Regions from separate parts of the Homo sapiens genome. Here all the other regions are linked to region 1. Evidence: fine-mapped expression QTL. A gene starts in region 1. Each other region holds a variant in brackets. All regions are shown on one strand. Distances are from middle to middle.

Region 1 (5,720 bases):
ATGCAAATGTACCCTATGAGGAAGTGTTGTGCGAGTGGACGATGATGTCACCCGTCTACTCTCAGCTCCTTTTTCAAATTCGGTGAGGCGTTTGTGGACGAGCACACCATGCAAAGCGGAGCAGAGGACCCCATGTGTGTCCTACGACACTTATTTTAACATGTTATTTTCAACAAGCAATTAATATTCCGGGGCAAAACATACCGCAAGCTTTATGAAACTGACCAGATGGGAAAAATCTTTGAGGTGCCATTTTTCCACTGGCTCAGCAAGAATTACATTATCCAGACCCAGGGAAACCTCACCCGGCTCCATTCTAAAAGTCCACTGCTGTTGAGTGAGATGCCCCCGAGTCGTCCGGCCTGGGCTGACCATTCACGGGCTCTGGAAAGAAAGCCTTGGTCTCTCTGCGGAGGAGGAGAGGAACTCGGGCCCCCGCCCCGCCCCAGGGCCTCCAGGAAGCAGCCTGCAAACTCGGCGACCCCTGGGAGCCGTGGTCTGTCCCAGCACTTTGTTTCGGAGGTAGGCGCACTGGCCGCCCACTTCCTGAATTGTTCACTCAATTTTTTTACAACTTTTGCAGACTCTTTGCTGGTGCCAAAAAGTCCTCTGGCTCAGCTAAGAAACGTGAAAACTATTTTTGGCATGCAGAAAAGTCGCTACAGGACTAAATTAGAGTCGGCGCCTGAAACGCAGCCCGCGTTCACAGATCCCGAAAATGTTGAATCCGACTCGCTTCAGAACACAGGAGGCCTGCAGCGAACTCTGGCGGCATCTCGGTACCTGGAGCCGCGGGGCGGAGGGATGGGGATTCCTGCTGTGGAGACCGTGACGCGGGACGGCCCGCAGGACAGGGTGTCAACCCCAACGCAACGCATCCGGTTAAACGTATAGCGCAACTGCGAACACGCTCGCGTGGATTAGAAGCGAAAGAAGAGAAATGCCCGAGGCAGAAACCCGCTCTGAGTCCCGGCTCCATCTAGACCCGGGCTGCCCCGAGACTACCGCGCGGCCCCTCTCGGGAACCCCGGCCGCCCGGCTCGCTCCGGGCGCAGGAAAAGCCCCTGAGAAGCGCGGGGCCCCCAGGACACCCCAGGAGAGGACGCTCCGGGCAGATGCGGGGGCACTGGGAGCGGGGGCGCCGCGGCTGCGGGAACTGAGGCTCCTCTGGGGAGGCTTCCCCGGCGCGGGGGGATGGGGTGGGCACTGCGCTCCAAGGGGCGGGGGAGGGGGAGAGGGCGGAGGCTGGGGGAGGAGAAGGAAGGGGGGGAGGAGGAGGGGAAGGGAGGAGGAGGAGGAAGGGGAGGAGGAGGAGGAAGGGGAGGAGGAGGAGGAAGGGGAGGAGGAAGAGGAGCGGAGGAGGGGAGCGAACAGGACGAGGAACGGGGCGGAGGGGGCTGGGAGGACGGAGGGGGCTGCGCCGCGCTCGGGGAGCGGAGGGGGACCGAGGGGTCCTGAGCGGGGGAAAGGTGAGCGGAGGAGGGGCCGCGAACCAGGGGGAAGCGGGAGGCCGGCGGAGCATGAGAGGGGGCGGCGGGAGGCGAGCGGGGGGAGCCCCGGAGGCTCCAACAACTTCCCAGTCCTGCGGGGATTCCGAGTTCCGAACAAAGGCGGCTACGAAGGCCGCGCGCACAGCGCTCTGTTCCGCCCCTCGGCGTCTCCCGCAGGGCGAACAAAGGCCCAGCGGGTCCCCGCGCCCAGGTCCCCCCACGTCCCCCTTCGGAGGTTCCCTTCTGCGTCCCAAGTCCCCAGGCCCCCCGCGCGCCCGATGCCCCCTCCACCCTCCGCGCCCCCCACCTCCGATCACCCCTGCGCTCCCGGATCTCCACGAAGCCCCGGACCCCGCGCCCCCGGCGTCCCCCGCGGCACTCACAGGATGGAGGTCTGCGGCGCCACGGCGGGCACGGCCTCCAGCAGCAGATGCATGCAGCGCACGGTGGTGCGGAAGCACAGGCAGCGGCTCGGACACCCTGCGCCCGGCTTCTGGGCCACCACGGCCAGCGTCCCCCAGGCGCAGAACAGCACGAGCGCCAACAGGCAGCGGCGCCCGGGGCCCCTGGAGCGCTTGGCCATGGCCGACGGCGCGGACGGACGCTCGGACGCACGGAGCCACCACGGCCGGCTCCCGACTGCGCCCGCCCGGCCGCGGCCCACGTCCCAGCTGTGCGCGGGGGGCGGGGGGCGCCAGCTGTGCACATGCGCGAGGCTCCTCCCGGCCCCTCTGAATCCCCGAGGGCGGGGCGGGGCGAGAACCCGGGGCCCCAGCGTCCGGCCTGAGCGCCCTCATCCCGGTGGGGCGGCCCGCATGGCCAAGGCGAGCGCTCGGGGGCGCGGAGGAGAGCATTGGCACCCCTGATTCTGCGCTCGAGACTCGGGGCTCGGGACCCTGGGGCCTACGCGAAGCTTCTCCACTTCTCTTACCCGTGGTTTCTGCCTGCGCTCACTACGGGTTTTTTAGTTGGCGCCTTAATGTTTGTAACACTTTTAGAGCGCTTGCTCTGATCCGGGCACGATTCCAGGCGCGCAGGCGCGCTCCTCTCTTTCTCCTTCTCCCTACCCGCAACCACGTAGGAAATTATTTAACGTTCCAAAAAAGCCCCTCATTCCTTTTGAGGAAACTGAGGCCCAAGCCCCAAAGCGCACAGCAAGGGAGTCTGCGGGAAGATTAGACCCAGGCGGTCCGGCTCCCCGGGGCCTGTCAGCCACCTGCTCTCTGCCGGCCGCCTGGCTCAGCACAGTTGGGAAAATGAAAGGTCCTGTGTGGAGTCCTTGGCGCGGCGCAATGCAGCCCCCGGGATTCTCGCGGCCTTCAGTGCGTGCCCTCCTGGGACAGACCTAGGAGGAGACCCAGGGAACCCCCCCCCCCCACGTCGGGTGTGTCTAGAGACAGCAGAAGACTTTGGAAAGGAGGGAAGACACTGCGTGAGATACGCACAAAGGTGGCGTTCTCACATAGTTCATACATTCTCTCCAATCATCTCACAAGGACCCAGTCTGAATTTCACAGACAAGGAAGGTGAGGCCAAGTTGCTGAACCCAGGCCACAGGGTGACGGTGCCAGATTCAGAGGCACAGCATGGGCGTGTTCCCGTCGCAAACCCCAAGTCTCAGCTGTGTCCCCGTGCTGGTGTTCTAGCCTGAGCTGCGTTTGAAAGCAGCCTGGAATGGGATTGGTGGGTAATAGGCTAGTTTCCTGTTGCTATGTTAAAACACAAAAGCAACTACCACGAGACATAGCCCGGAGGTCACAGGTGCATTGCTGACCACAGGGCACCATCTAAGGACTGGACCCCCGAGGCTGCTGGCAGGGGGTTCCAGTTCCTTGCCGTGTGGGTCTCCATGGCCTGCACACTGGACATGGCCTGATGCCTCCCAGAGCAGGTATTAGAAGAAAGAGGAAGAGAATGAGAGTACAACACAGAAGCCAGGGTAAAACCTAACCCAGCCTTGGAACTGGCCCCGCATCACACCTGCGGGGTGCATCCTCAGAGGTCGGTGGCTCCCGCTGACATTCCAGATGCCATCTTTCCTGCAGGATTTTATCCACCCTCTACAGCGGATGCAGCTCACACTCCGGATTCCATTTCTCCTGCAGGATCCTATTCACACACTCCGGTGGGCCCAGCTCACACTGCAGACAACATCTCTCCTGCAGGATACTATCCACACACAGAAGTGGGTCCAGCTCACACTGCAGACATCTCTCCTGCAAGATCCTATTCACACATTCCAGTGACTCCAGTTCACACTGTAGATGCCAAAACTTATGCAGGATTCTATGCACACACACTAGTGGTGCATTTCACACTCCGGATGCCGTATCTTCTGCAGAATCCTGTCCACACATTTCAGTGGGTCCAGTTCACGCTCTACATGTGCTCTCTCCTGCGGGCTCCTATCCACACACTCCGGAGGTGCCATTCACACTCTAGATGCCATCTCTCCTGCAGGACGATGTCCACACCCTCCAGTGGGTCCAGTTCACACTCTAGAGGACATCACTTTTGCAGGATCCTCTCTACACATTCCACCGGTGCCATTCACACCACAGATGCTGTCTCTTTGCAGAGTCCTATCCACATGCCCCAGGGCTGCAGCTCACACTGCAGACACCATCACCCCTGCAGTATCCTATCCACACACCTCAGTGGGTCCCATTCACACTCCAGAGGCTATCACTTTTGCAGGATCCTATACACACACTTTAATGGGGCCAGCTCACAGTCCAGAAGCCGTTACTCCAGCATGATTCTAGCTACACACCCCAGTGGCCCAGTTTACACTGCAGATGCCTTGTCTTCTGCAGGATCCTCTCCAGGCACAACAGTGGGTCCAGTTCACACTCCAGTTGCCATCTCTCCTGCAGGACCCTACCCATACACTCAAGTGGGTCCAGTTCACACTCCAAATGCCATCCACCTGCAGCATCCCAACCTCTCACTCAAGTGGGTGCAGTTCACACTCCAGTTGCCATCTCTCCTGCAGGACCCTACCCACACACTACAGTGCTCCACTTCACACAGCAGACATCATCACTGCTGAAGGCTGCTGTCCACACAGTCCTGTGGATGCAGTGCTCACTCCACATGCCATCACTCTTGCAGGATCCTACCCACACACTCGAGGCAGTCCAGATCACACTGCAGATGTCATCACTCCTGCAAGATGCTATCCATACACTCCAGTGGGTTCGGTTCACACTGCAGATGCCATCTCTCCTCAAAGATCCTGTCTACACATAGCAGTGGTTGAGTTTGGGTCCCACCCAAAGATTCCAGTGGGTCCGCTTCCCACTGCACACGCCATCTCACCTGCAGGATTCTCTCCATACACTCCACTCAGTCCAGTTTACATTCTACATGTCGTCTCTCCTGCAAGATTCTATCCACACACTCGAGTAGGTCCAGCTGAAACTCCATATGCCATCGCCCCTGCGGGATCCTGCGCACACTCTCCAGTGGGTTCAGATTAGACTCCGGGTGCCATCGCCCCTGCGGGATCCTGCGCACACATTCGAGTGGGTTTAGTTCAGATTCCGATGCCATCACCCCTGCAGGGTCCTGTCCACGCACTCCAGAGGATTCATTTCAGACTCCGGGTGCCATCGCCCCTGCGGGATCCTGTGCACACACTCCAGTGGGTTCAGATTAGACTCCGGGTGCCATCACCCCTGCAGGATCCTGTGCACACACTCCAGTGAGTTCAGCCATCACCCCGCAGGATCCTGTGCACACACGCCAGTGGGTTCAGCCATCACCCCGCAGGATCCTGTGCACACACACCAGTGGGTCCAGATGCAGATGCCATCACTCCTCCTGGATCCTCTCCACACCCTCCTGTTGTTCCAGCTCACACTGGACGCCATCTCTCCTGCTGGATTCCATCCACAGATGCTCTTGCGTCCAGCACATGCCACAGCAGAGCATCAACTGGGAGCGTAAGGAACATGAGACAGAACCACTGGGGACCATCTTAGAGGCTGCCTACCACGTGTCACTCTTGAGTTTGTGTAGAACAGGGATGCTTGTGAGAATGCTTCTTCTGTATTTCCATAATGGCAGAATGCTGGGTGGGAGCTGCAAACATTATATTCAGCAGAGGAGGAGACAGAGTCCTAGGCAGACTTCAGTACAGTCCTGCTGTTAAGTACCTGGAGCTAGAGCAGACCCCGCAGGTTACAGATGTGGATGGACCTCAGTAAGGCTGCCCTCACTTTAATA
Region 2 (5,720 bases), 66 kb after region 1:
ACCCAGTCTCGGGTATTTCTTCATAGCAGTGTGAGAATGCACGAATACACCTGTTTTATGTGTGCTCCCATTTAAAGACAACCTATTTAATAGATACTGTGGATTCCTTAACATAGAAACTCCCAGCCAACAGTCACAACCATGACTCCTGTCTGAAGGGAGCTTGGCTAGCGTGTGTTTTCTCTGTGAGGCACATCACAGCCCCCTGCCCTTAGGAACACCAGACACTTCAGCTGCTCTGCGAGTGCACAGGACTAACTACAAAAGCACTGAGATCATTGCCTGCGTCTACAAATTAATTTCGGCAGGGAGGTGACCTCGCAAATAGAGTCCCCAGATCATGAGGGTGGACTGTGGATGTTTCTAAGGGCTTAAGTGGCTCTCCTCTCTCCTGCTCCTCCAGAGGCCCCCAGTTTTCCTCTGCAGAACTCTCTACACACCTGTGCTGGTTGGTGACAAGAGAGACCCTCAGAACAAAACAGATTTGCAGGTGGAATCAAGAAAATCAGGCACCAGACATGCAGAGAGTGAGGGCGACAGGGGAGGGGGTGCCATCCTTGTTATCTGTGGCCTGGGGTGGCCCCAAAGCTGCTCCTGGGTGGAGAAACCCTGGATGAGGGCCTGAGGGACACAGGCAGAAATGTGGGCACACTGGGGTTCCAGGGAGTAAATCGTCCAGTGCTGGAGAGACCCTCAGGACTTGGGCTCATGATTCCGGTGAGCAGTGAAATCGGTGAAGGTGGGAGACGGTTTTGAGAAAGACTGCTTTTTCTCAAGTTGCTTCGCTTTATAGATGAGAGGGCCAGAATTATCTCTGCCCCTGCTTTCTAAGAAAAGTGAGCTGTAACTGTCAAAGGACACACAGCTGGCATGGCCGTGCCCGCTGGGCCTTCCTGACCATGGGTGCCACGAGGGCTGGAGGGGTGCTCACCGTTGCTGGCCCGCTGTTTGATGGTCAGCATCTGCTCTCCAGAAAGCTTTGCCTTCTTCATCGCTGACGTGGCTCTCGGGCATCCTGACAAGCTGTGGACAAGACACAGGACGGCCATTAGTCAACTGTCTAATGTCCCAGCCCTGCAGGGAAGTGGTGGTAAGCAAGGCGTAGAATAGCATTATTAGGTTGGTTGCCAGCAAAAGGCTGTCTGAAAATGAGAAAAAGCAAAAAGACCAATGCATACAGTATGACAGTTATGCACACATGGGGTGCATGTGTGTGCACTCATGCATGTGGTGAGCACTGATCATGGGTGCTCGGCTGGGGCTGCCTCTTGGCGGGGGGTCTTGGGAGCTGGGGCTCTGAGAGCAGAGGAAATCTGCCCTTCATTGTATAACTTTCAGAGCTTTTTGGAACTTTTGTAGAGTGATAATATTGCTTAAAAATCTTTATTATGGAAAGCATCAAGCTCATAGAAAGGTTGGGTTTAAAAGTTAATTTCAAATATACAAAAGTAGAGACAGCAGAATAATGAACTCACCCCAAATTCAGCTGTTATCTCTCAAGGCTAGTCACCTGTGCCCCTCCTGCTTCCCCAGTCTCAAAGGTGAAAACATAACTGCAATCTCCTTATCTCACTTACAATTTTTAGCCAGTTTTCTAGTATCAGCAGCTATTCAGTCTGTTTTCAAACTTTCCAGGTGTCTCTTCACTTTTCTCAGCCACTGGTTTGTCGACGTCAGGATGCGTCTCAGCTCTTCACAGTGTATGTGGCAGATGTGGCTGGCAGCCTCCGGGGCAGGAAGGCACCTCTGCCTCCTTTTCTGTCCTGTTGGGTGTTTGCTGAAGATGGCGTGTCCTGTGTGCGGAGCGCCTCTTCCATGCAGTCCCGTGCCTCGGCTTCCTCACAACTCCTCAGTCTCCGAGGGGCCTTCCCTCCCTTCCAGGGGCTCCTGGACGTGCTGGTCAACTGGAGTCCTCACTGTGCTAAAGGCCAGGGGCCATCTGGCACTTAACTATGGGTGAGGTGAAAAACTTCTATATATAACGCTTTTTTTTTTTTTTTTTGAGAGGGTCTTGCTCTGTCACCCAGGCTGGAGTGCAGTGGCCCGATGTCGGCTCACTGCAGCCTCTGCCTCCTGGGTTCCAGTGATTCTCCCGCCTCAGCCTCCCGATTACAGAATTATAGCCTCTGGGATTACAGGTGTGTGCCACCACACCTGGCTAATTTTTGTATTTTTAGTAGAGACAGGGTTTCACCATATTGGCCAGGCTGGTCTTCAACTCCTGACCTCAGGTGATCTGCCCGCCTTGGCCTCCCAAAGTGCTAGGATTACAGGCATGAGCCACCGCACCCCGCCTATAATGTTTTATATATGTATATGACATATGTGTTTATTCTCTCTATACATAATATTGTATTTCACCTGTATATGAAGTGTTAGATGGACCGTGTCCGTAAGTGGTGTGATGATGTGTTAGTGATATATCTAGAAACACTCTTTACTAGTGCAGGCAGATTACATCATTATTAGAAATATCTCTAATATCTGCATTAATATAATTAAGCTTTCTAAATATTATTTTTGTAATACATTTTCTTTTAAAATTTAAGAAAACAGGAAAATTCATAGCAGAAGAACTTGATCGTAATACATTTTCAACTGGGGATATTAGTGGTTGTTTTTGGGGAAATCCTATCTTTGTATAAAAATATTTCCAGTATTCTTCATCCACACCACAGGTCTAAGTTGTTATTTTTTTGATGTGATGTTT[G/A]CATCTCATAATTATAATAGAATATTCATAAAATTCTAAATAATCATTGCTGTTGCCTGACTGTGTCCCCTGAAAACTCGTGCACTGAAATCCTGACCCCCACCGGGATGGTGTTAGGAGAAGGGGCGTATGGGAAGTGAGGAGGCCTCGTGATGGGATCCGTGCCCTTATAACAGGGACCCAGACAGCTCCTTAACCCCTTCTCCCATGTGAGGACAGAGTGAGAAGGCGTCGTCCACCAACCAGAGAGCAGCAGTTGCCAGATGCCGAATCTGCTGGTGCCTCGGTCTCGGACTTCCAGTCTCCAGAACTTGGAGGAATAAATTTCTGGTTTCTATGCTGCCCAAGGTATGGTATTTGTTTTTGCAGCCCTGGAACGTCTAAGACAATCACCAGTATTTGTTGCTCATACCACAACTCTGTGGCTGTGAACTGCTGTGTTTGCTGATGATGTTCCTAGGTTCAGTGGGAGAAGGAGCAGCGGGGACTTTAACCCCAGCGTCATCAGCTCCAGCATCATCAGCTCTGGCGTCATCAGCTCTGGCGTCATCAGCTCCAGCATCATCAGCTCCCGCGTCCTATCCCATCCCAGGGCAAGCCGCACGGGAAGCCCCAGGAGCAGAGAGGCCTCTGGGAACTGGGTGGCCTGACAGGGTGGGCACGGTGGGCGCCCTGGCTTCTCCTGCTTGCCCTGACTGCATCCCCAGGAATCCGGACAGTCCCTGAGGGGGTCCTGGCTCGTGGTTCCCTTTGCTGTTTTTTTGTTCATTTATTTGTTACTAGACATTGGCACTGCTGCTTCTGATGGATCCTCTCACCCTGCCTGCTGCTGTTTACACCGGAAATCCCTGTGCTACTCAAGCTGTCTTTAGTGTGGGGCGTGAACGAACCCCTCGCGTTCCGGAGGGAACAGGCTCCTCTTCAGTCCTCCCTGATGGGGCCTGGGCAACAACCTGGCAGTCGTCCCCACTCCGGGGCACCCTCCTGGGTCTTCTCCTGCCTCCCCATCAGATCCCAGCAGGACGCCCTGCAAATCCGGCTGGGGTGGGGGCTGACACTTCTGCTTCCCTAGCTTATCCGTAAATCTGCTTCTGAAGGCGAGCTGGATATTTTCATTTGTAAAATAAGAAGTTCTCAAAAGATCTGTTAAGGCTCTCCTAAAATAGGATGCTTGGATGTTAACGCCACTTTTCCCCTTCCTGCCACTGGACACACTGTGGCTGTCACACACATCTTCCTGCAGGTGTGTCTGCGCTTTGGCCCCCGCATCCAGGTAGACTCTGCAGTCAGGTGACTACATCTGGCAAGTCCTTTGTGAGACCAGGAGGCCCACTGGACCTCACACCGCACCCCCTGATGCTCTAACGCACATAAGACGTGGAACTGGCTAGGAAAGACTTAGGCAGTCCTGTTTGCTCACTTATGAAATGAGAATAAAATATTGAATTGACTGTGTTTGTGAAGTTTAATGAAAAGAATGTGTATTCTTGAGGGCAAGGATTAAAATGCACTTTTTTGTTCACTGCTCTGTATCCCCATGATGGGAGAGTGCTGGAGATGGAATAGGTGCCCAGTGACGACTTCTGAAAGCATAAAATGTCTGAATGCACTTTGTGATGGCTCAGTGAGTGGAGGCCCAGGGTGAGTGTGAGTGCACCCAGGCTCTGGAAGGTGCAGACTGAGCCCTCAAAGAGGCCTGCGGCAGGATTTTGCAGGACTTCCAAGTTAAGAGAAGACTCTTAGCCGGGCGCGGTGGTTCATGCCTGTAATCCTAGCACTTTGTGAGGCCGAGGCGGACAGATCATGAGGTCAGGAGTTCCAGACCAGCCTGGCCAACATGGTGAAACCCTGTCTCTACTAAAAATACAAAAATTAGCTGGGCGTGGTGGCAGGTGCCTATAATCCCAGCTACTTGGGAGGCTGAGGCAGGAGAATCTCTTGAACCCGGGAGGCAGAGGTTGCAGTGAGCCGAGATCGCACTGCTGCACTCCAGCCTGGGTGACAGAGCAGGACTCCGTCTCAAAAAAAAAAAAAAAAAAAAAGACTCTTGAATGCAGCTGCCGCCCTGGGTTAAGATGAGAGGAGGGCTGGGGTGAGGGCCTCCTGCAGAGGTCCTAAGACTGTGACTGTAGGACAAGGGTGACGCCTGGTCGGTCCACGGTGCGTGTGGCCCAGCCCGGCTCAGTATGATCCTCACAAATGCAGGGAGCAGCTCCCATCTTTCCCCCGCTGAACCTCTCTGGCCTTCCGCCGTCTGAACCTCCGCAGCCCTTTCGACTTTCCCTGTGTTTGCGAATGGCATTGAGGGGCCAGGAGCTGCAGGTGGGGGGGAGAGAGGGAGGGCCACAAAGGCACGCCTCCTCCTCCTTGCCGTCCTCCCAGCGAGCAGCCTCTGCTGTTTGCGCCTGAACCCCCTCCCTTCTCTTCATCACTTCAGTCCAGGTCTGTGCTTCTTTCTCCCTCAGCGAGGCCCCTGGGCCTCAGCCTGGGTCCCATCCGTTCCATCCCACAGCTGAGAAATGGCCCCAGGGGCACAGCTGTGATTGCCCCCACTCCCCCAGGAGAGCTTCCAGCAGCTTCTCTGAGAGCAGCTGCCGATGCTGGAATATTTCCTAGAGCAGGGGTCCCCAAACTCCCGGCCGTGGCCTGTGAGGAACCGGGCCGTACAGGTGGAGGTGGGCAGTGGGCGGGCGAGCATTCTCACCTGAGCTCCGCCTCCCGACACGTCAGCGGCGGGATTCGATTCTCCCAGGAGCGCAAACGCTACTGAGAACTGCGCCTGCGAGGGGGTCCGGGCTGCGGGCTCCTTAGAAGTTAATCCTGGTGATCCCAGGTGGAACGGTTTCATCCAGAAACCATCCCACCCCTTTTCTGTAGAAAAATTAGCTTCCGGCCGGGCGCGGTGGCTCACGCCTGTAATCCCAGCACTTTGGGAGGCCGAGGCGGGCGGATCACGCGGTCAGGAGATCGAGACCATCCTGGCTAACACGGTGAAACCCCGTCTGTACTA
Region 3 (4,000 bases), 24 kb before region 1:
ACCTCGCAGATGGCATGTGAGGGGCACACCCAGGACACGCTGACAGCCACGCAAGGTCCCTGCAAAGGCAAACACCGGGCACAGCAGCCGAGCTGAGACGCCAGGGGCCAGGGGCTGGCTGCACTGGCGCAGTCATGGCTCCTTAGACGAGCGAGCCAGCCTGGGGCCCTGCGGCCATGCCTCCCACCTGAGTTACTCGGAAGGGGGCTTGCTCCACACCTTCTCACACCACCTGCTCCCCGTGTGGGAACAGAGCCAGGGGAGGCAGCCACCCACCTTCACCCCTCAGCCACAGCCTGGCAATCCCCTAAGAGGACACCCCATGGAGAAAGGCCCTCCCCAGGCAGCAGCCGGCAGCACCCAACCCAGCCAGGCTCTGTCCCAGGCCCTCCTGGGTCTGTGCCCCTGCTCAGGGTCCTCTCCCCAGCACGAATCCTTACATAAACCACACAAAGCCTGTGTGCCTTGAGGGTACATGGAACCTAAGAGGGGACACTGGCCTTGCAGGAGGCATCGAACTCCTCGCCGGTCCCCGCCGACCTGCCTGCTTGGCTCCCTAGCACCCCTGTGCCTCTAACAGCGGCCTCCAGGGCCTCTCTGGATTCTCACCACAGTCCTCCAGTTTCAGCCCCCACGGCCAGCTGTTAATCCCTGAACATTTTCAAGTTCAAGTTCTCAGGAGACAGCACTGGCTGGGCTAAGCCTGACCATCAGTGACTAGCACATGGACCACTGTCCTGGGTCAGGCGCCCACCCGGTTCCAACCAGCTGCGGTCCAGGAGGACCAGGTCATGTGACACACATCGTGAACACTGGATTGGTCAGGGTTCTCCAGAGAAATGGAGACCACAGGATGTGTGTACATGCGTGCATTGTGTGTGTGTGTGTGTGTGTGTGTGTGTGTGTGTGTGTGAAAGAGAGAGAGGGAGGGAGATTCAGAGAGAGAGGGAGGGAGGGATGCAGAGAGGGAGAGAGAGAGAGGGAGGGATGCAGAGAGAGGGAGATGCACAGAGAGAGGGAGGGATGCAGAGAGAGAGGGAGGGGAGGGATGTAGAGAGAGAGAGAGAGAGAGGGAGGGATGCAGAGAGAGAGAGAGGGAGGGAGGGATGCAGAGAGAGAGGGAGGGAGGGATGCAGAGAGAGAGGGAGGGAGGGATGCAGAGAGAGAGGGAGGGAAGAATGCAGAGAGAGAGAGAGGGAGGGAGGGATGCAGAGAGAGAGAGATGCACAGAGAGAGGGAGGGATGCAGAGAGAGGGAGGGATGCAGAGAGAGAGAGAGGGAGGGAGGGATGCAGAGAGAGAGAGAGAGAGGGAGGGATGCAGAGAGAGAGAGAGGGAGGGAGGGATGCAGAGAGAGAGAGATGCACAGAGAGAGGGAGGGATGCAGAGAGAGGGAGGGATGCAGAGAGAGAGGGAGGGGAGGGATGCAGAGAGAGAGATGCACAGAGAGAGGGAGGGATGCAGAGAGAGAGGTGGGGTTGAAGGTGAGAAGAGAGGCAGAAGGGAGGTGTATTTTAAGGAGCTGGCTGAGATGGTGGTGGCTTGGCAAGTCCAGAGTCTGCAGGGAGTGCCTCGCTCCACGCTTTCTCACACCACCTGCTCCAGACCAGAGCCTGGGGAGGCAGCCGACCACCTTTGCCTCTCAGATACAGCTCTCTCTGCATCTCTTTCTCTCTCTCTGCATCTCTTTCTCTCTCTCTGCATCTCTTTCTCTCTGCATCTCTTTCTCTCTCTCTCTGCATCTCTTTCTCTCTCTCTCTCTCTCACACACACACACACACACACACACACACGTACACATATCCTGTGGTTTCCATTTCTCTGGAGAACCCTGACCAACCCAGTGTTCGCAATGTGTGTCACATGACCTGGTCCTCCCGGACCGCAGCTGGTTGGACCTGGGTGGGCGCCTGACCCAGGACAGCAGTCCTCATGCTGGCCGCTTACTGATGCTACAGCCCCGGGGAAGCATGGTAGCTGCAGCTCCAGTCCAAAAGCCGCCTCTGCTGGTGGAATTCCCTCCTGCTCCGGGGAGGTCAGCCTTTATTCCGTTAAGGCCTTCAACTAACTGGACGAGGTCCACCCACACCACAGAGGACAGTCGGCTCTACTCAAAGTCTCCAGATTTAAATGTTACTGTCCTCTAAAAACCCCTTCACAGAAACATCCAGAATAATGTCTCAGCACATATCTGGGTGCAGTGGCCCAGCCAAGTCGACATAAAATTCAGCATCACAGGCAGGCAGGCAGCGTGGCTGAGGATGGGGCTCCTTCACTTAGAAGGTGCAAATGTGGCAGGCAGCTGAGATGAAGCCAACTTAGAAGTGTCAGAATTCAAACAACTGAACGG[G/A]AATAGTTTCAACAACGGTACGGGTTAATTGAGGTGGTTCCTGTTCAGAAAGACCCAGTGTGCTCTTTGAGTTGAGCAAAACAAATGGATGAATCATGTTAATCCCACTGGGCATTCATCCAGGATTCAGCCAACCAGCAGGCAGGAAGCCCCTCTTCACAAACCAAGCCCAGGAAGTAACTGACTCCAGGCTCTAGTGAAACAGATTGAGTTTTGCTTGTTGCTTTTCTAAAAGCCTCAAATTGGCCGGGTGCGGTGGCTCACGCCTGTAATCCCAGCACTTTGGGAGGCCGAGGCGGGCGGATCACGAGGTCAGGAGATCAAGACCATACTGGCTAACACAGTGAAACCCCGTCTCTACTAAAAATTAGCCGGGCTTGGTGGCGAGCGCCTGTAGTCCCAGCTACTTGGGAGACTGAGGCAGGAGAATGGCGTGAACCCAGGAGGTGGAGCTTGCAGTGCCACTGCACTCCAGCCTGGGAGACAGAGAGAGACTCCGTCTCAAAATAAATAAATAAATAAATAAAAGCCTCAAATCAGGCTGTGCTTTAATGACCTCCACTGAGGAAATGAATCATAAAATGGAATCAAGAAATATTTATACCAAATAGTTACTAAGAGACTCAAAGGGGATCTAACCTAGGGGAATTCCCACATACACATCACTTGTTAGGAAGGCGAGAAAGGCAAGCCAAGCTGATGAGTGAATGAGGAAACGCTTTTTAAAGTGCTAAATAAGACAGTTTTATAAATGAGAAAATACCACAAGACAGAGTTAAGCGAGAAATAATGAACCCGAGAGGTGTTGACAATGGATGGGCTGAAGATGAACTATCAGGAAGTTTCTGAGCGAGCGGACACAAAATAGAACATGTAAGAAGAATAAAATTAAGCCAAAGCAGTCCCTCTTGAAAGCTCTCCACGTGGACGTCTTCACTTTACCTCAGGTTATTCCGGTCAGCAGCCAGCATGGCCGTTCCCTCACCCCAGGACTGTGATGCTGACGCAGTCTCCTCTCTCGGCACTGAGTCCTCAGAGTCCTGGTGGCTTGGCAGTCCCTCTCCCATGAGAAATTGAGAACAGGAGAATCTCAACGCAGAATCCATTGCGTGCAATGCATGGGTTATCCCAGCATCCAGATTCTAGCTGGCTGTGATCCTCAGAAGAACTGGGAACATATTCACCCAAATCATTTTCTTTGGAGCTTTATTTTCTCAATAACCAGTTGAAAAAGACTGCTAGACACAGAACTCTGAGGAACTTCCCAGCAAAGGAGGCTTCTCTAACCTCCCCTCAAAAAATATAAGAAAGTTGTATTTTAAAATCAGTGCATTCTGAACTTAGGAGAAAAGAGGTGTGCGTCTACAGGTGGGGCTCCTTCCACAGCTATCTCCTTCTCTATAACCCTCTAGCTAGGCTTCCAACACTATTCTTAAAATATGGGAGGGGGGTACGAGGAAGCAGGGACAGGGCTGTGGCTCCAGGGGCACAGTGTTGCAGGGCACGGTGTGCCTCACAGCCTGACCCCTTCTGGACCACAAGCACCTGACAGCCTGCTGCTGTCACCACTGTGGGACACTTCACAGTGATTCCAGTAGTGAGGGATGGATGGATGGGTGAATGGGTGGGTAGCTAGATGGAGAGATGTATG
Region 4 (4,000 bases), 41 kb before region 1:
TTGTTTTGTTTTGAGACAGAGTCTCGCTCTGTCGCCCAGGCTGGAGTGCACTGGCGTGATCTCGGTTCACTGCAACCTCCGTCTCCCAGGTTCAAGCAATTCTCCTGCCTCAGCCTCCCGAGTAGCTGGGACTACAGGCACCCGCCACTACGCCCAGCTAATTTTTTGTATTTTTAGAGATGAGGTTTCACCGAGTTGGCCAAGCTGGTCTCGAACTCCTGACCTCAGGTGATCCACGCACCTCGGCCTCTCAAAGTGCTTGGTTTTATACATTTTAGGGAGGCACGAGACATCAATCAATATATGTAAGATGAATTTAGTTCAGTCTAGAAAGGCGGGACAACTCCAGGTGAAGGGGGGGACAACTCCAGGTGAAGGGGGGACAGCTCCAGGTGAAGGGGGGGCAGCTCCAGGTGAAGGGAGGGCAGCTCCAGGTGAAGGGGGGCAACTCCAGGTGAAGGGGGGACAACTCCAGGTGAAGGGGGGACAGCTCCAGGTGAAGGGGGGACAGCTCCAGGTGAAGGAGGGACAACTCCAGGTGAAGCGGGGGACAACTCCAGGTGAAAGAGGGACAACTCCAGGTGAAGGGGGGGGCAACTCCTGGTGAAGGGGGGGCAACTCCAGGTGAAGGTAGGGGGCAACTCCAGGTGAAGGTAGGGGACAACTCCAGGTGAAGGGGGGCAACTCCAGGTGAAGGGAGGGCAACTCCAGGTGAAGGGGGGGACAGCTCCAGGTGAAGTGGGGGACAGCTCCAGGTGAAGGAGGGACAACTCCAGGTGAAGGAGGGACAACTCCAGGTGAAGCGGGGGACAACTCCCGGTGAAGGAGAGACAACTCCAGGTGAAGGGGGGGCAACTCCAGGTGAAGGGGGGACAACTCCAGGTGAAGGGGGGACAGCTCCAGGTGAAGGGGGGGCAGCTCCAGGTGAAGGTGGGGGACAACTCCAGGTGAAGGGGGGGCAACTCCAGGTGAAGGGAGGGCAACTCCAGGTGAAGGGAGGGCAACTCCAGGTGAAGGGGGGCAACTCCAGGTGAAGGGGGGGACAGCTCCAGGTGAAGCGGGGGACAGCTCCAGGTGAAGGGGGGGCAACTCCAGGTGAAGGGGGGGGCAACTCCAGGTGAAGGGGGGCAACTCCAGGTGAAGGGAGGGCAACTCCAGGTGAAGGGGGGCAACTCCAGGTGAAGGGAGGGCAACTCCAGGTGAAGGGGGGACAGCTCCAGGTGAAGGGGGGCAACTCCAGGTGAAGGGGGGGCAACTCCAGGTGAAGGAGGGCAACTCCAGGTGAAGGTGGGGGACAACTCCAGGTGAAGGGAGGGCAACTCCAGGTGAAGGTAGGGGACAACTCCAGGTGAAGGGGGGGCAACTCCAGGTGAAGGTAGGGGACAACTCCAGGTGAAGGGGGGCAACTCCAGGTGAAGGGAGGGCAACTCCAGGTGAAGGGGGGCAACTCCAGGTGAAGGGAGGGCAACTCCAGGTGAAGGGGGGACAGCTCCAGGTGAAGGGGGGCAACTCCAGGTGAAGGGGGGGCAACTCCAGGTGAAGGAGGGCAACTCCAGGTGAAGGTGGGGGACAACTCCAGGTGAAGGGAGGGCAACTCCAGGTGAAGGGGGGCAACTCCAGGTGAAGGGGGGGACAGCTCCAGGTGAAGCGGGGGACAGCTCCAGGTGAAGGAAGGACAACTCCAGGTGAAGCGGGGGACAACTCCAGGTGAAAGAGGGACAACTCCAGGTGAAGGGGGGGCAACTCCAGGTGAAGGGGGGGGCAACTCCAGGTGAAGGAGGGCAACTCCAGGTGAAGGTAGGGGACAACTCCAGGTGAAGGGGGGCAACTCCAGGTGAAGGGGGGGGCAACTCCAGGTGAAGGAGGGCAACTCCAGGTGAAGGTGGGGGACAACTCCAGGTGAAGGGGGGCAACTCCAGGTGAAGGGAGGGCAACTCCAGGTGAAGGGGGGACAGCTCCAGGTGAAGGGGGGCAGCTCCAGGTAAAGGGGGGGACAACTCCAGGTGAAGGGGGGGCAGCTCCAGGTGAAGGGGGGGCAACTCCAAGAGGGGAGGGAGCTTCCAGGTCACAGGTAGATAAGAGACAAATGGCTGCACTGTCTTGAGTTTCTGATGATCTTTTCCAAGGGATGCAGTCAGATATGCATGTCTCGGTGAGCAGAGGGTGGCTTTGAATACAATGGGAGGCAGCTTTGCCTTGAGCAGTTCCCAGCTTGACTCTTCCCTTTAACTTAGTGATTTGGGGGTCCCAAGACTTACTTTCTTTTCATACAAGTCTTGGGGAGCAACCATTATCACATGACATTAATAAGAGCAGATGATGCATCATCCGTCAGTGTATTCTGAGGATGTAATGAGAGGATGCACACACGAGCTAGTTAGTAACCAACTAAAAATTAACTGAAGTTACAGAAAAAAAGACAACAGTACTAAGAGCTCAACCCTGATGTCGCCCGGCACTGCCCATCACGTGAGAGCCGTGA[GAGCAGAGGGC/G]ACGTCTGCACACATCCCAGTGCCCTGGGCCTCCCCGGAGCCGTGAGAGCAGAGCATGTCTGCACACATCCCAGGGGCCCTGGGCCTCCCCTGAGGGAGAGGCAGACCGGCTCAGTTCACTCCCAAACCCACATGACCCACTGAAGACACTCCCTCCATGAAGGCTGGGGTTGGGAGGGGTGAATGTAGGAGGCAGCCATGTGCCACTCCCCATGAGCCCAGATGCAGGGTGCGGCTCCCCACGACCTGGGATGCAGGGTGCAGGGTGCAGCTCCCCATGACCTGGGACACAGGGTGCAGGATGCAGCTCCCCATGACCTGGGATGCAGGGTGCAGCTGCCCACGACCTGGGACACAGGGTGCAGGGTGCGGCTCCCCACGACCTGGGATGCAGGGTACAGAGTGCAGCTGCCCACGACCTGGGACGCAGAGTGCAGGATGCAGCTCCCCATGACCTGGAACGCAGGGTGCAGGGTGCGGCTCCCCACGACCTGGGACGCAGGGTGCAGGGTGCAGCTCCCTGTGACCTGGGACGCAGGGTGCAGAGTGCAGGGTGCAGCTCCCCGTGACCTGGGATGCAGGGTGCAGGGTGCAGCTCCCCACAACCTGGGATGCAGGTGCGGCTGCCCATGACCTGGGACACAGGATGCAGGGTGCAGCTCCCCACGACCTGGGATGCAGGTGCGGCTGCCTATGACCTGGGACGCAGGGTGCAGGGCACGGCTGCCCACGACCTGGGACGCGTGGAGTGTCACCAGCCCTTTTGGAGAGTTTCCCGCGTGGAGTGTGGGGCTACAAGGAGCAGTTCTCCGTCCATTACGGCCTCCCCCAGGCACTCCAGGCCCTGCCGCTCAGGCATCCATGTGGCTTGGACACCGTCAAGGCTACTGGCTTCTCTGATCCAGCTTCTTCAGGGTCTCCAGACCTCAGTCAGAGCGAGAACTTGGATCCGACTGGATGCCAGATTCAAGTTCTACCCTGCCCTCCGATTCCTGGGCTCTCAAACCCAGAGACCGTCCCAGCGTCTCTGACCTTCAGTGAGAGTTAGGAGCTCCCGGGTTATTCTATGAAATTGGGAGCTGGTCTGTCCAGCACCTAAAGATCTATCTGGGAGGGTGGGGCTTCCCTGTCCCACTGGCAGCCTGGTATTCACTGGGTCACAGTCCTGCCTCCATGTGATATCAAGTCCTCCAGGGAGCAAGTGCAGTAACAACTGTTTAAGTCACAAATCGGACACGGTCTCACTGCAAGCCACAGAATCTTACATCCTGCTGGCATTGCCAGAAGCCAGTCACCTGCCCCACTAATAATACAACCTGAGAGCACGCTGCAGTGTTCACCAATCAGCTCTAAGCATCACCTGCCCCACTAATAATACAATCTGAGAGCACGCTTCAGTGTTCACCAATCAGCTCTAAACATCACCTGCCCCACTAATAATACAATCTGAGAGCACGCTTCAGTGTTCACCAATCAGCTCTAAGCATCGCCTGCCCCACTAATAATAC

Alleles and levels. Alleles are on the strand shown, and positions count from the first base shown. SD is a standard deviation of normalised expression in the study named. Not every link is listed here.
For the expression in naive CD4 T cells of the gene that starts at base 2,133 in region 1, allele A in region 2 goes with a lower level than allele G (large effect, 0.89 SD a copy in Schmiedel 2018).

The links. PIP is the estimated chance that this variant, and not a neighbour inherited with it, causes the effect. A credible set is the group of variants that fine-mapping cannot tell apart.
Region 2: its variant is the best candidate, but not a certain one, in a credible set for the expression of PXDN in naive CD4 T cells (Schmiedel 2018, PIP 0.55).
Region 3: its variant is the best candidate, but not a certain one, in a credible set for the expression of PXDN in whole blood (TOPMed, PIP 0.64).
Region 4: its variant is the best candidate, but not a certain one, in a credible set for the expression of PXDN in nasal epithelium (TOPMed, PIP 0.69).

The regions. Positions count from the first base shown.
Region 1 is chr2:1,742,383-1,748,102 of GRCh38, forward strand. It overlaps PXDN (peroxidasin), which reads right to left and starts at 2,133. Exons shown (of 23, transcript NM_012293.3): 1 at 1,874-2,133. The coding sequence starts at 2,073.
Region 2 is chr2:1,808,145-1,813,864 of GRCh38, forward strand. MYT1L (myelin transcription factor 1 like) reads right to left here. Exons shown (of 25, transcript NM_001303052.2): 22 at 932-1,023. Among named protein-coding and RNA genes, the nearest start is that of PXDN, 66 kb to the left of the region's middle. The variant G/A (reference allele first, on the strand shown) is at 2,711.
Region 3 is chr2:1,718,962-1,722,961 of GRCh38, forward strand. The region is part of intron 1 of PXDN (peroxidasin); the gene reads right to left. Among named protein-coding and RNA genes, the nearest start is that of PXDN, 24 kb to the right of the region's middle. The variant G/A (reference allele first, on the strand shown) is at 2,350.
Region 4 is chr2:1,702,635-1,706,634 of GRCh38, forward strand. The region is part of intron 1 of PXDN (peroxidasin); the gene reads right to left. Among named protein-coding and RNA genes, the nearest start is that of PXDN, 40 kb to the right of the region's middle. RefSeq lists enhancers at 1,893-2,496, 2,497-3,100. The variant GAGCAGAGGGC/G (reference allele first, on the strand shown) is at 2,483.